Regions from separate parts of the Homo sapiens genome. Here region 1 is linked to region 2. Evidence: fine-mapped expression QTL. Tissue or cell type: sun-exposed skin. Region 2 holds a variant in brackets; the other region holds the start of a gene. All regions are shown on one strand. Distances are from middle to middle.

Region 1 (8,106 bases), 280 kb after region 2:
TTTATTTCCAACCATTCAGGAATGTGAAAACCATTCTTAGCCCACGAGACATACGGGCAAGCTGTCAGATCTGGCCCACAGGCCATAGCTTGTCAATGCCTGTCCCATCATGATGAATGCCAGCAATGAGTCGCTATACTACATGAATGTGTATGGTCCCTGTCCCTTCATAATACTCCTTTACCAACCCTGAGAACTAGGACTTATAAGTGGATCTGAAGTTCACAGTTGGCAAATTTAAAATCTTACGGGAAAAATATTTTCATTAAAATTAAACAATGGGCCGGGTGTGGTGGCTCACACCTGTATTCCCAGCACTTTGGGAGGCCAAGGCGAGCGGATCAGCTGAGGTCAGGAGTCCAAGACCAGCCTGGCCAACATGGTGAAACCCTGTCTCTATAAAAATACAAAAATTAGGCAGGCATGGTGGTGTGTGCCTGTAATCCCAGCTACTCGGGAGGCTGAGACACGAGAATTACTTGAAACCAGGAGGGGGAGGTTGCAGTGAGTCAAGATCACACCGTTGCACTCCAGCCTGGGTGACAGAGTGAGACTCCATCTCAAAAAACAAAAACAAAAACAAAAAAACTTAAACAATGGTCAGCACACTTAAAAAAAAAAAAGAAAGGACATTTTACCTATCTTAAGTCCCAAATAGTGGGAACTATGTAATTTGTTCCTAGTTGCCATCCCCTCAGAAAAAAATGGTAAGATCCCTGAGATAGTGGTGAGCTTGTTTTACTCTAACAATACATCTGCTGAGACTTTTTTCAATGTTGGTTTATCCATCCAAATGTTCAATGTCCTGTCTTTCTGGTTTTAAGATTAGTATTTGTAGACCCTCATCTCCTCAGTCCCACCATAGTCCAAGATGGTGGATGATTGATACATAAAAAGCTATAGATTTTGTTTCTTTAATCTAATCTACATATCTACAACACTTGCAACACCCTTCCCCACTTGCAAATATTGTCCTGTCTATGATAGCTTTCTAGGCATTCCTAACAAACACTTTAAGGCTCTATTTTCCTTGTGTTTTGTTTCACTTCAAATTTCATTGTATACTTCTTTACTACTGCAGACTTTCTCTTTTAACTCTCTTTTTATTTCCAGTCCCAGGGTTTCTCTTTTTTTCACCATCCACAACAGTTGTCACTTGAATGAGGCATATATTTGAACTGTGTTTCCCAGTTACGTCCTTTTCCCAGTTGAAAGGTCCCAGCATCATATTCCCAAGTGAACCCACATGGGTTCATTGTACTTTCTCTTTTGTGCAGGGTTGAAAATGTCCATAATAAAAAAGATTTTATAAAAATAGAGCATACATTCCTATACTCTAGATTTGGTCACAAGAGGAATTTGTGGTTGGGAAGAAATTAGCATATTCATATGCCACACCACTCCCTGGCATGCCCTCCCTATTCTGTGCCTGGTAAAATTGTTCTCAGCCTCTGAGTTCTAGGCAGGACACCTATGGAAGTATCTCGATAACTCTCTCATCTGCATTCCCAAAGCACTTTATACATCTCCATTAAAGCACTTACTATTGCATTGTGGTTAGCTGTTTATAGAGCCGTCCCACCACCAATCTCCCCTACCCTCTAAGCCTACAAGCAACTCTCATATTTTGTTGCATCCCCAGTGCCCAGCACAGTGCCTGGAAAAGAAGATCAAGATAGCATTTAAAAGAGGATCAAGATAGCATTTCACAGTGCCTGGAAAAGAGGATCAAGACAGCATTTCTCAGAAACATTGAGGGCAGTGTCTCCACTAAACAGGTGTTTCAGGGGGCTTCCCTAGCCAACTTCCATAAACACTCTCAACCTTTCTCCTTTCCTAAAAAAAATAAATAAATAAACAATCTAAGTAAAAACACAACTTCAAAACAAGTCCCCCCATGGCCTTCATACAATGAGATTGCTGCCCTAAACTGTTCCTCATTGGAATTAATTCTGGCATGAACACTGCAGAACATGCAAAGTTCTTTTAATACCACAAAACAAAAAGCCTACATGGCACTCACAGTTTTCAAACTATTTCACCTTTTTTTTCTCCTTCCATTTGTCCACTTATCCCTGATAGTCCTATCCTCATTTTTCAGACACTCAAGGAAGTAAAAGTGACATGTCCAATATCAGAACTGGTAACAGCTCTGTGCCTAAAACCCTTAACTTATTGATCTATCCACTCATCTGACTCTTCTGATGCTAGGCTCAGTATCTGTGAAGGGTTTTTTTTTTTTTCCTAGATTTTTTTCCCATTATGAATGGTGGCATTAAATGGGGGCACCATGCTCTAAAAAATCCATTTCAAGCAAAATCATTTAGGCAGATACACATTATGAAAAGAGAGAGTCGAATATGTCCCACTTGTGTTAGTATTGCTCTATGATTTTGCCATAAGTACTTCTTATTGACTAACGGGTTTCCAGTGAATTACCGACTGTTCAAAAAATGCCATGCCATGCATTTCTACACATAGAAATATGTTATTATCTAAAAATTTTGCTCATAAGGAAGCACTACTATTTATAGGTTAAGTGCAAGATCCTGAATCCCATATAATTCCTTTTTCCTGAACTATTAAATGTAGATACTTATCACATTAACAACCTCTATACTTTAAATACTCTTAGTTCTTCTACATAATCCTGTGTGATTTAACTATTACTTTAATTCTCTTACTATTTATTGCATGCAACTCTTTTAATATTAGTACATATCATTTTAGACATAAATAGGGCACTACCTGCCAAAAAATCTTGCTACTGAGTGGTAATTGAAAGTCAAGATTATTTCTCAGATATATTAAGCTTTTCAAATGAGCTACATTTAGCTTTTCTCAAATTACTTAATATTTTTCAACAAAGGCCTATAATAGAGTATGCAAAGCACGTCACACTTAAGATTTTCAAGTTTGATCTGGTTACGAATCTGTTAATTGAAAATTTTTCAATATGGCAGAGCACAAAATATTTCACACAAATGCAAATAGAGATGTCATGCAGATAGCTGCAAGACGTGCATCATTGCCCTTCTGCATCAAACTCCGAAATTCAGAGGCAGTTCACTCTGCAAGATTTCTTGCTCAGTTCTTAAAAGTTCAGATGCATCACCTTTTAATCAGGGTAATAAGCTATAATTGCTAACATACTGTGTAACGTTTAAACCTGCAATCTGGACAAACAGAAAATTATGCTGTCACAGCCTGGAAACAACTGCAATCCACTGTTAACACACACATCCTCCTTAGAGAGAGCTGTCGTCGGGAGTTACATGCTTTATGGTTTTAATTATTTTTAGCGTAAAGATCTTTTCCCGAGAAGCAGGTATTAAGACGAAAGCAGCCTCCCAAATGACCTTCTCTAACACAGACCTTGAGCGAGCGACTGCGGGGGCAGAGAGCTGTGAATTTCAGCAAGGGATTCGACAGCTCCACCGGGTCCCTCACACTTTGCTTTCAAGAACAAAAAAAGAATGTTACTCTGCACCTGCCGGTGCCCCCACCCCTCTTTAAAACTTCATACCCCGCAAGGTCTGAATAGCCGGAAAGGGTATGCATCGATTCTTCTGTCCCGTGATGCCAAGAGAAAATAAACCCCCACCCAGGAGCGGAGCCTGGAGTCGCGGCAGGGCAGGGGGTTGGAGAGGTGGGTGCTCTCTCCCCTTACTGCGCTGCATTTTCTCCACCACGTGTAATAATCTCATGCCGCTGGCACCCCACGAGAGGCGGGGATCCTTGTCCTCCTGTCTCCCGGACGAGGACCTCAACCCCTTCCCCCGCTCGGGGACCCCGGCCACCCGCAGCCCGGCCGCGCTGCGCCCAGGTGCGGAGCTGCGGCGGTCTCAGGGCCCGGGCAGCACCGCAGAGCTCGGCCCCCGGCTGCGGCCCCCGGCGAGCTACCTTTTATCCAGGCAGGCGATCCACTCGGCAGAGGAGGAAGAATGGGCAGCGTGCGCAGCGACCATGTTGAGCGGCGGCGCGCGGTGTCCCTGGCTGCGGCGACCTCCCGCGCTCGCTCTGCCTGCGCCTCCGCCCCCGCCTCGTCCGCCGCGCGGACCCCGCTCCTCCCGGACGCCTGGCGACCAGCGCGGCTGCGACAGGCCCGCCCTCCCCGCGGGCTCCCGCGGCCTGGGGCGGTGGGGAGAGGGAGGGGACCCGGGGGGCGGGACGCGGGTGCGGGGAGGGCCGAGTCGCCCGCCCGCCCGCCGCTGCACTGCGGCGCCCGTGGGTGGGGATTCCGCCCCGGGGTGGGGACCCCGCGGTCCCGCTGCTGGGGGACACTGGGGGTGGCGACCCCGGTGGCCGGCCACCTGCGACAGGTGTCCGCTGCGTCCCTCGGAGACTGGGGCCCCACCCTCACCCCGGGGCCTCTGAGGCGGGGCGGGAGGGCAGGCGCCAAGGCAGAGTGGGGAGAGGGCTGCCAGTGTCTATATATTTTTCATACAGCAAATGCTACTAAAATGGCTGCTGCCTCTCTGTTTCCTTAGAAACCCATGAGTCTTCCTCAGCAGCTGTCGAAACTTGCCGGCGGTTGCTTGCTCACCTTTGCTGTCTCCCCTTCAGAAAAGGCTGGAGGGGAGGGCGAGGAAGGCTTGGCGTGGGGACGCCCGTCGAGTCTCTCAGTGAGGAATGAGAGGCCAGCTTCTCCTGCGGGGTGAGGAAGGGCTGGGCGCAATGGGGGGCAGTGCGGGCAGGGCTGAGGGGCAGGGAGGGAGGAGGCCGGTGGGCCCGATGTGGTCTGAGGGGGTGACAGGCTGAAGTCACTGGCCTTGAACCCTGGGCCTGCCTGGGCTTCCATCACCTGCATGGTGAAGAAAACACAGTTGAGAATGGGGAGTAGCCGGGCCACAGCAGAACCGAGACCCCGGACGCGCAGGTGAACTTGTATGGCTGGCCCCCTTGCTGTTCTTCCTCTGGCTGGAGTGTTGAATGGGTGGTGATAACGGCCTGTCTCTTGTAGATGTTCACACAAATGTCATGTCTACAAGTTATTCAGTTACACTCTGCCAAGAACCAAATTACACGCCAATGGTTGTTTAGGAATTTGCGGACAAGTTAAATGTTTTGGACTATTACCAAGCACTGTTTTGATATTTATGGCACTACATTTGGGGCCAGACAATGGGGGAAAGGGACATAGCATTGCTTTCTTCTACTGTTCCCTGCCTCCTCCCCCCACCAAACCTCCTATCCAACCCTGCTCAGGGGAGAGTCAGGGGGACTGGAGAGAAGGAAAGAGCAAGTGCTTTCTGGGATGCTTTGATCCTAATAAAACAATTATTACCATGATATAAAAGCCTCCAAATATGTGCCATTTCCCTCTGCTGGATAGCCAGGATCTAGTTTCAGACCTGCCACAGTGTTCCCACAGCAACTCCTCCCTCCCTGCTCAGGGCTTTTCCCCCAGTTAACCTTCATTCTGTTAATTTCTATCATGTTTATGCTAATATTTAAAATAATATACTATAGAAAGATTAACCAAAGGTATTTATGTTGTGGCTTTTTTACTATACAGGTATGAAGGAGGAACTGTATCTCCTATATATATTAAGTTTCATTTATAAAGACATCAGAGAGCACCTGAGAATGTTTCAAGGTCACCAAAAGCTTTCTGAAAATGCCTTTCTGCAAAGAAGGTTTCCAGGTAAGGAGCTAGAGGAGAAAGGAGCTGCACATCACCTGTCATCACACAGAGGCTCAGAGTTGCCATAGCTTTGGTTATGATACTAATAATAGTCGCCATTTATTGAACATCCACTGAGTGTTAGACCCTGTGCAGTACTCCTTACATGTGTGATCCCATTTAATCTTCAGAACACTCTATGAGGCAGAGCCAGAAAGACACTACTCCACAAACAGCAATAAATATCCTTGAAAATGTAGTGAAATATTGAAAATGATATGTATCAGTACTTTCAGGGAGAGTGTTAATTGGATTGGAAGGAAGACACTGATGAGCTGCTGGGAGTGAGAGTGAGACCCTCGAGGAGTCCACAGTGCATTTTAAGGAGTGTAGCTCTGATGAACTGCAAGGCCTTTGTTTTGCTGTGTGGGGGCCCTGCCTCTTCTCTAAAGAGAAGTTGAAGACTTATTTAAAGAACATCCTTTCGAAGGAGAACCAACAATCACTAGCTTGTCCAGAGCATGCTCATGTCTTCATCCAGCCCTGGAGGTAGGTACAAGTAACTCCAAGATACTCACTAAGACACTGAACTCAGGAAGGGTCCATAACCCAGCTACAGGAGATGGGGCCCCGGAGTGGAATTTGGGTCTGTCTGATTCCAAACCCTTCCACATCAGTGATGGTGTCCCTGTTTCTGCCAATAGAATGGGAGTATAGGGCATGTCTACAATGACTGTCCAGAGGGTAAGAACAAAATAGTTATAAATCAGTTTTTTAATGTAAAAATAGAGAAATGTGTGAGGAATTAAAAAACAGAGATCCTTAAAACATCAGGAATAGCTTTACTGTCCTATAGATTATCTTGTGATCTGAAAGGGATTTGATTGCTGGTCAAGAACTACAGGAGTAAAGGAAACTCTGTTGATAATTAGTTATTATAGTATTAAGAGGAAGAAAACAGGCTTTTGCTTGGATTGGATGGGAAAGGCAAAGAACCAAAGAATATTTATTCATTTCCCTCTCTTTAAAAGAACACAATATATGTCAGTCCCAAAAGAGCATATGTTGTATGATCCTATTTATGTGAAACTTCCAGAAAAAGCGAATCTATAGAGATGGAAAATAGATTAGGGATTGCCTAAGGCTGGGAGGTGGGAATAAGGGATGACTGCAGATGGGCCTGAGAAATCTTCTAGAAATGATCTAAAATTGAACTGTGGTGATGGATACACAACTCTATAAATTTAATAACAATCATCAAATGGTATAGTTAAAATGAGTGAATTTTACAGTATGCAAATTATCTCAATAAAAATGTTAAGTAAATAAAATATTAATAAACCTATATGGAGAGGAAAAATAATATGATTGATCTTTTGGGGGGAAACAGAGAAAAATATAGGAGAAAAAGTAAAAATTACCCATAATTCCATAACATAGAGGTAATACTGTTAATATTTTAGTGCATTTAATTCTAAACTTTTCTATTATGAAAAGATACAATCAAGGCCAAGCACAGTGGCTCACATCTGTAGTCCCAACAATTTCGGAGGACAAGGCAGGAGGATTGCTTGAGGCCAGGAGTTCAAGACCAGCCAGGGCAACATAGTGAGACCCCCCCCATCTCTACAAAAATTAAAAAAAAATTAAAAATTAGAAGTGATATGATCATACATGTACCCACAAACACATACATATAACTAGCTATGTGTATGTATATGTGTGCATATATGTATGTGTATAGATACATGTATTCAAACAGACTTGAAAGCATTAATAGTTTATAGGCTACTTTTTCTATTGGAATGGAAAAATGCTTTACTTTCCTTAAAAAATCCTTAAACATTTTTTCCTGGCCACCAAATATTCTAGTGTACAGTTATAATTTACTTACACTATCTTTTGAGACTTGTTTTTTCACTTGGAAAAGGTATTATCTGTTTAATCTCCTTCCTATAGTTTAGTGAATTCTTTCTCTACTAGAGAACTAAGATCTCTACTGAAGATCTCCATGAGACAAGGATGAGACAAGACCAATATCTGTTAATGCTATGTAGATCCTCGAATGAGTTGCTAAAATGTCTGATTTCCATTTTGTTCATCTGAGCAGAGGTTCAAAGTTAGGAATTTGAAGGCAGGCAGCCAAGTTCAAATTGCAGCCATATCTTCTACTAAATGTTTGGCCTTAAATTAACTACTTAGCCTAAGACTCCGTTTCATCATCTGTAGAGTGGAGAAATTAATAGTATTATACATGAATTTGGTATTTGTAAGATATTTAGCATAAGTGCCAAGCACATAGTGAGTGTTCAATAACTCTTAGCTATTATTCTCCATATAGTGCAAATAATACTAGGTGCTCTCTGCATTTCACAGGGACCTGGTGGTGATAAGCTGTCGAGATCACTTATGCTAAAGGGCTTCGACATCTATAAATTGCAAGTTTTGGCTATAAAGGATATGAGGGATGGGTCTCCTGA
Region 2 (8,106 bases):
AAAAAAAAAAAAAAATAATAAAAAAAAGAAGTGCTGTAGCAATGCAAATACACAGAAAAGTGTGATCAGTACAACACCTGGATGTAGGAGCGAAATACTGTTGCTCCCAATTTACTCTACACAGGGGACAGAGGACAGGGAAGAAAAGTGATTCCAAAGTTTTAAATCTTAGGGAACTGAACCGAAGCTGATGGGCAAGTAGCATATGGAAACAAATGAGGAGAATGATTTCAACCAGGGTAGGTCCTAGGTAAAAAAAGTTGGGGAAGCTTATACATTTTAGGGTTTACGACTGCCTCTCAGAGGATCAAACTGGCCTTGCACGTTCTTCCTTCCCTCTTGCAGCTGCTGTGAACACAGCCCTTCTGCTGCTCTGCGGAGCTGCCCCTCCTACGTTATTCCTGCTGTTTGCTCTCTCCTCAGGATTGGAGATACCCAGTACACCTTGCTCCTTCTTTTCCTTGAGGCTTTATAACTTTACATAAGGGGGACAAGTTTACCTAACAACACAGGGAAGAGTCTAATATTAAGAAATATGCAAAGTTCTTTTAGTCGTGGATGCTGGTCTATCACTCCTGCAACCCTTTTGAGAGTAACGGAAAGCTCTGTTGAGTCTCAACTTTTCTTTCAGTGGGCAGGGCTCACCAAGTCTCTCTCCCGGCGTAGGGCAGGTTGACCCCTTCCATGAGCCACGGAAGAGGCAATGTGAGCAGCAAAAGGTGCTTCTCCCTTAGAAGTGGGGAATATAAATGCTCACCCTGGACCCCAGAGGAAGCGCCTCCTTGGGCCATTTTCTTGTACATAGCCCTGTGGAAATGTCCTACAGATAAGGCACAGCAGAGCTTATGTGGAGCCTGCATCGCACAGACAGATCTGAAAGCTGCTTACCCACAGACACAGAACTCCCATGCATTTTCTCCCCACGGTTTTTGAGCCATGATTTCTTTGCTAAGGCTGGAGAGGGGTAATTGGGAGAGTAGCATTGTTATCCTCCCATTTTCCAGATGAGGAGACTAAGACATAAAAGGGATGTGTGGATTGTCAGTGACAAAGAGATGGTGAAGGTAAGCTACCCGGAGCATCTTCCTTTCCTCGTGTGCCCACACCCTCTGTGTCTAGCTCTGCTATGGCCCTTGCTGCACTGCATTCTCACTGGTCACATGCGGGGGTGCCTCACTACACTGTTTGCTCACTGAGGTACAAGGACCATGATGGTTTTGTCTTCAAGACCATTTTAGAGCCAGAACCATCTACAATGCCTGCGATGATGTGGTAGGTACTAAATAAAAGTCTGAGGAACCAGTGAATGGACAAAAGTAGAATCACATTATACTACAATGGAGTTTTATAGGAATTTGCTCTGTACTGATATTTATACTTAAATAAAATGTGAAGAGTAAAGTTTCAGAATCTGAACCCTTAACCACTAGGCTAACTTGCCAGCACTCTACTGATTCTATTATAGACCACACAATTTAAGGCTAACATTGAACACTAAGACTTGTTCTATTCCAGGCTGCTTGTGTTAGTCTCATCTCTCTGGCTTTAGCGTAACTGCGGTAAGGACAGAGGCTCTGGGGCACTTGGTTTAGTGTCTCACAGAAGCCAGCACAGCCCCAAGCACAGAGCAGACCCTGCAGAAGCATGTGTGGATGGATCAGAGAGTGTGGCCAACATTCTCTACTGCAGGGTCATCCTCTGTGCGACTCCTCCTCGATGGGCTGTCCTCAAAGGGAATCTTTAGAAAGCCAGAGAAGGAGCTCATTGTCCACAGTTATGTGAGGCAGGTAAGGTTTGGCCACTCACAGCACAATGAATGGCAGAGCGCTGATAGGGAAGAAGTTCATGCCCAGGGTACTCAATGCAGAGGACATTCCTTCCAACGACAGAGGCCTTAAAACAGAGGACGAGCAAGGACTAAGAACTTGGAAGGCTGCAGGACTGTGTGCCAACAAACAGAGGTTTAGAAAGTTAGTATCTGCCCCACAGGGAGCTGAAGACAGTCTGCACTCCCTGTGTCTGCGCCATGTCATTTGGCACTGCGGCCAAGAACCCTCTGGCAAGAGAGTCCCCAGCACCCGTGCAGTAACATGTCACATAGCACCTTTAATGGGGCTGCGCTGAACTGGCTTTTTATGGCTTTCCTTTCCAGGAGAGGGCAGCACGACTCATTTATGACATTTTTTTCCCCAATCCTTCAGTATTGAGAAATATTTATTTAGAAAGCAATGAATGTAGATGACTAAAAAAATATACGGAAAGGCGGGAGGCAGACTCAGATCTTATAAGGCTGGTGATTGAGGAAAGGTGAGCGTGCTTATGGGCTCTGATGGATGAGGGATTAGCAGGAAAACTAATGCCACATTTGCTAAGTTCCTCTCCAAGTGAATTCAAAATATGGTAAAAATCCACCTATCCTCACTGGAGTGCACAAAATGGTACTCTCTAAAACAAAAAATCAGGATTATGATGAGCCTGAAACAACCTCTAAAAAGTCCAAGGAAGAGAATCTTGATATCTATAAGAGCTGATCTGATCAAACTTGAAACCTACTCATGCATCCCTTATGTAAACTCTCTCCCTAAAATTGGATGCAGTTTACCTCTAGCTCTTGTCTTGTGCCTTTCTTTTCTTTTCTTTGTTTTTGAGGCAGAGTCTCGCTCTGTTGCCCAGGCTGGAGTGCAGTGGCGCCATCTTGGCTCACTGCAAGCTCCGCCTCCCGGGTTCACGCCATTCTCCTGCCTCAGCCTCCTGAGTAGCTGGGACTACAGGCGCCCGCCACCACGCTCGGTCTTGTGCCTTTCTTAAAGGAGAAACCCCGTGTATCCAAAGACTGAAGAAACCAGTTTCTCTACCCTCTGAATTGGCCCTCTAGGCTTTCTAAGATATGTTACTAGCTACTCACCTACATACCAAATTCTGGTAGGAGAAATAGAAATGGATGCTACCACCGACTTAAAAGAGAGCAGGCTACTCAGTTATTAGTGTGGTCCTATTAGTCTTTTCTTCACAGAAAGATCTGTCTGTATGCTGGGTAACAAGTGTTTTTGGAGACTTAGGGAAGGGTCTGGACTTTGCCATTTTCTGCATAAGGTAGAGAAAGTGCTTTTGGGGAACAGCATTTCTCTTAGATCAGATGGTGGCTTTGCCATAATGCAAAGGAGCCTGATAAATAGTGATATCTTGCTTTAGAAAAATTATTTCCATCCTGGTGTAAGTATTCAGATTCTTAATATTTAAACTGGGGACATACCAATGAGGCGAATTACAACAAAGAGTTCTGAAAGCTGAATTATGCCCTAATAGTGGTGCTACTTGGCTAATTTTCACAAAAGAAAATCAAAAGCCCTGAGCATCTCAAATGAACACCTGAGGCTTACCTAATAGACTGCAGAAAAAGAAAAAGCTAAGTACCATTCAAGATTTTTTAGCCACTGGGTTCAGTGTGACTGCAAAATTAGGCTCCAGACAAGTTTTTCTGATTGCAATGCTGCTCTGAGCAGGCCATCCACACCTACCAGTGAATCGAATTGCTCTCGCGGGCAAGCAAACAGGCGTCCATTAATGGTGAGCGTCGTAAATACTGAAACATCATTAGGTTTGAGCACCACCTTTTCTGTGAACATAAAAAGCATGAGATTGCCTATTAAATACATCTGAGATTTGCTGCACTGCCCTAATCACACCAACAAATTGCCAGCTTGGTGAATTACCGGAACACGCAGAGTGACTGCATAAAATAGAGTACTGAAGGGATCCACGGAATAAAAAAGACGGCATTCATGCAGCCCTGCGCCACTCAGGATGCCTTCAGAAATGGCCACAAAAAGGAATAGAGATGCCAGAGGGTCAATTCACCCAGTTTTGTGCTGCAACCATAATTACTGAGCACATAAAACCCGCACTTGGCTATTTATCTCACAAGTTATGTTTCCAGATGGTAATCACACCCAGGACTTTGGACATAGAAAGATCACTTTTTAAAAACTTTGGAGGTTTCTGAGACCTCACATGATTTTAGATGCAAAATTTACTATTGTTTTTTCACTTATTCCCTAATTTGCAGGGCAATAGCATTAACTAGATTAAGCCTCCTCCCACATTAAAAAAATTAGTTCTTCAGATGAGAACATGTCAAAAAAATTAAAAAATTAGTTCATTTAATAAACATTTATTTTGTATTTACTGCATGCCAGAAACTGCTCCAGGCACTGGGGAGACAGAAGGGAACAATACAGAAAAAAAATCCCACTCCAAAAAGCATTACATCATAGTGGGAGATGCCAACAATAAAGAAAAGAAATAGATTACAGAGTGAGAAGGCAAGGAGAAAAAAATATCACAGGGGTGGGGTCTAGGAAGCTTGTGTAAGGGGAAGAAGTTAACATTTTAGAAAGGGAATGAAGCAAATGAAGGAGGGAGCTTCAGTGAGACACTGACATTTGGGTAAAGACTGAAAGAAAGTGAGGGTGAGACCTGGGATATCTATGGGAAGGTGACAAGGGGTCAGGGAGGGCAGACATCCTGGGCCTTGTGCAACTGGAGCAGAAATGGAAGGGAGATCTTAAAATCCAACATGCATTTAAAAATCCTCCATCAGTGGAATCATTCACCTTAAAACATGACAGAAATGGCTCACCTGTTCCTGAAGGATTCCGCCAAATGGCTGTC[A/C]AATCATGACTGGAGAAATGAACCTCACTGTTGCTTCCTCTAGTCTCTCACTACAATATGTGGTCATTCCTAAAACTCTTGCCAGCATGAACTGTAATTGTTTTAACTTACCGTCTACCTCCTCCCTGGCCTGGGAACAACCTGGGGACGTGAGCTGTGTCTAACTCATTCTTTCCTTCGTAGCCACACTGTGGCCAGTAAATATGTGATGAACGAATAAATGACATTTCAAAAATGCACCATGTAATCAAGGACAGTGAAAGGAACTGTAATCCCGTGGAGGAAAAATATTCCTCATTTCATTTGAGCCAGGCTCCTAGCCTCTCTACTGAGTAAGGAGAAAAACCATCATCAGCTTCAAAGAACTAGCTTCTGACCACTTCCAACTTTGGACTTGTAGAAACCCATGGCCTTGAGCTTGTCCAGCTAGATTTCCTCTTGGGGCCCATATTTTTCAGGGCTCCAAGGCCTAAAACTTTTTTGAATAGAGTTTAAATTGAAAGAACTCCAGGCCAACATCTACACGACAGTCCTCAGTTCCAGTCACCTTTCTGATTTAGAGTGGGTACCTACCAGATAGGGGACATTAGAAACCCAACCCACCTCTACCCATACTGTTTCTGTTATTAGTGGAAGCATACATAAGCACCAGTTCATCCTCTGGGTGAGCCTCACATGACCACGCTAACTCCTTACATAGTTTCTGCTTGGATGGAATGTCCCATTTTGCAGAGCCTAAAATATGAATTAAGACTGTTACCTCCTCCGGAACTCATCTTGACTATGATCAGGCCCTCCCCGGAGCCCAGCTTGTCGGCAACTGCACTGATGACTTCCTTCACCGAAGTGGCCACTGGCACCCGAATGGTTGTGTAGGTGTGGTCCATGCAATAGACCTTAAACAGAACTATCCAAAGGCAGTAACAAGGTAGTAAATCACTCTTAAGAGTTTTCAATAAAACTATAGTTATGAAAAATGTTTAGGCATCCTCTCCAATTTGCATCATTTTGCCATTTTTGTTACTGTATTTATTCATACTCATTTACCCCTATTCCTGCCCCTTCTAAACTGCTTACCTTAGCATTGGTCTAAGAATAGGTGCACATATGGTTGCCAAGTCCAATTAAAAGAACAAGAGATATTGGTGAAAACCCCACAAAGAGGTCATGGGAAAAAATTGAGAGTATCTTCAGGCTGATGTTCAGGGTCTGAAGTGCTATACTGTAGGCAATTCACAGATCACTGCTACCCTGTGTGGCAGTGGGGAGACACCATTCACCTCTCTGCACACAGGAGGGCTTCCGCCTGGGCCATGAGCACGTGCTGACACTCCTGCTCACTTGCTTCAGTGGCTTGTGTGCTTTGGGGCCAGGCCATGTAAGCTCGGATGCTATTTAGCTCAGCAGACTTAGATCAGCAGATCTGGATATGGCACCCAGAGGCTCAACTCTGAACACAAAAATCCTGGGAGCAATTCCCATTATTATATTATAATTCCTGGGTTTAGAGGCAGTCCTAAATGACAAGATTTATTTATAGCTTTAAATGAAATTTTTATCATTATTATTGTGACTATTTTTGGTTGTGATTCTTTGGAGAATCTTAAATAACCAAACAAAAGCCAGCATCTTGATCTTCCTGATGTAAAGCCTCCCTGCTCAGGGCTGGGCTCAGGGCCAGAGCATTGTCCCTGGGCAGGATGCTGGTGATCCATTGTCTCCTTGGCACCCACTAGGCGCCAGCTACCTTCCCACCAGCTTTTCCCAGGGGTGGGCAATCCTGACAACCAGGCCCTGAGATCATCTTCATTTCCTCCAAGGAAAGGGGTTAAGCAGGGAGAGGCCAAATCAGGGAAAGGTAGACAGGCATCTCGGCTTCAGGCACAAGAGTTTAAGGACATAAATAATCGGGCCACCAAAGGGCACCTCCAAGCAAACCATCTGGAGGGCAACAGGGCATCTTCAAAAGAAGCTATTCTGTGGGTCCAAGGTGATGCTTACCATTATCCTGACTAAATAATCTATACAACTACGAGTTAGTTGGAAGAGGGTTCTCACCTTCATCAGAGCCGCGGATAGGCTGGCGCTTCTGGGCTCTCTCATCGCCCGTATTGAACTGTTGCAAAAGAACCTTGTGCTGTAAAAACAACCACAGCAAGTGCCATAAGGGACAGTGACCAATGCATGCTAGCATCTCAGAGAAGACACATCTGAGAAGCAAGCAGAGTCAAGAAATGAAGACAATATATTTCACGTCTACAAAAAAGAAATCACTTTTATGTATACTGCAATATAATATTTCTGGGGAATTGTAATTCTACAGGACACAGACAGAGAATGCAAGTTCATGCCACCTACCTTCTTTTGTGGTGCCTTTGCATCTTCTGAGCTACGAGAAGTAGAGAAAGCACATTATTTAATACCATTGCTACTATTAAATTGCCTTATTTGTATATAACTAATCTTATGTTAGAAAATGAAATCACAATCACAGAATCCTTTCAGGAGACAATATGAGCTTCCTCATTTTAATAGTAATAGATCAAAGCAGAAGGGTAGACAGCAAAGATATCAGCTCTTGTCACAGGCAGATTCCTGGCAGAACCGATGTTCAAAGCCAGGATTTCTAGCTTTCAAAGTCTATCTAGCAGCACACTCACTCTCTGATACTGCATTTAATCTATAGTTCAAGTAATAGCATGTGAAAACCTTCTGGTTCATTGAGAGGACACAAATATTCACCACCAACAGCTTTGGCAGCAGTTAGTGAATTTTCCATATAAGTAGTTGCCCTCAAACTTTCTTTAAATGCCGCTGGCCATTTTATTGCCAGATTCACTGCCTTGAACCTAAGGGACCCAGGTTTATTGAGTTGGACTCCACCCAGGAGGATCTTTTCTTTCCCAGGCTATCTTTTGGCAGCCCTCTAGCACAGAATGAACAGAATCTCAGTCCTTCTGTTCCTCTGGCCTTACTGCACCACCTATGCCCTCAGCCCAGTCTGCTTAAATCAAATCAAGCGGGGCATGGCTATGGAAAGACCAGCTTTAACCTTTCTTGTGGGCAAAGGACTTTTTGAGATTTACTTGATGAAAGCACACCCCCACAGTCAAGCCCTTCCTTACATTTGCTTGACAATCTTCTCCAACTCTGGCAGTTGCTCCTTGAGGGCAGCAATCATCCGGGCATCATCTGATACAGATACATAAAACTCCTGTAATTGGCAAAAGTCACAGGCTTTTAACAAGAACTGCAAAAGGCACATGATTCTGTCAAGAGCAATAAAGATGTGTCCCTATGTCATCTGCTTCACCAGCATCTCCAGACCATGGCTTCATGGACTGGAGGAAGAACAAAGAAGAAAATGTTACACTATGTCTAAGTTCAAAATTGGCCATGAGAAAAAATTTTGGAAATAGTGGCAATCAATGACTG

What was found. PIP is the estimated chance that this variant, and not a neighbour inherited with it, causes the effect.
Region 1: RAPGEF4 starts here. The variant in region 2 is fine-mapped to the expression of RAPGEF4 in sun-exposed skin (GTEx, PIP above 0.99). The same link has a PIP of 0.9 or more in unexposed skin.

The regions. Positions count from the first base shown.
Region 1 is chr2:172,731,846-172,739,951 of GRCh38, reverse strand. RAPGEF4 (Rap guanine nucleotide exchange factor 4) reads right to left here and starts at 4,107. Exons shown (of 31, transcript NM_007023.4): 1 at 3,904-4,107. The coding sequence starts at 3,968. RAPGEF4-AS1 (RAPGEF4 antisense RNA 1) reads left to right here and starts at 3,746. Exons shown (of 4, transcript NR_026995.1): 1 at 3,746-3,826; 2 at 4,491-4,657; 3 at 5,519-5,647.
Region 2 is chr2:173,016,128-173,024,233 of GRCh38, reverse strand. RAPGEF4 (Rap guanine nucleotide exchange factor 4) reads right to left here. Exons shown (of 31, transcript NM_007023.4): 19 at 7,797-7,885; 20 at 7,030-7,060; 21 at 6,730-6,808; 22 at 5,432-5,578; 23 at 3,519-3,616. Among named protein-coding and RNA genes, the nearest start is that of MAP3K20, 56 kb to the left of the region's middle. The variant A/C (reference allele first, on the strand shown) is at 4,672.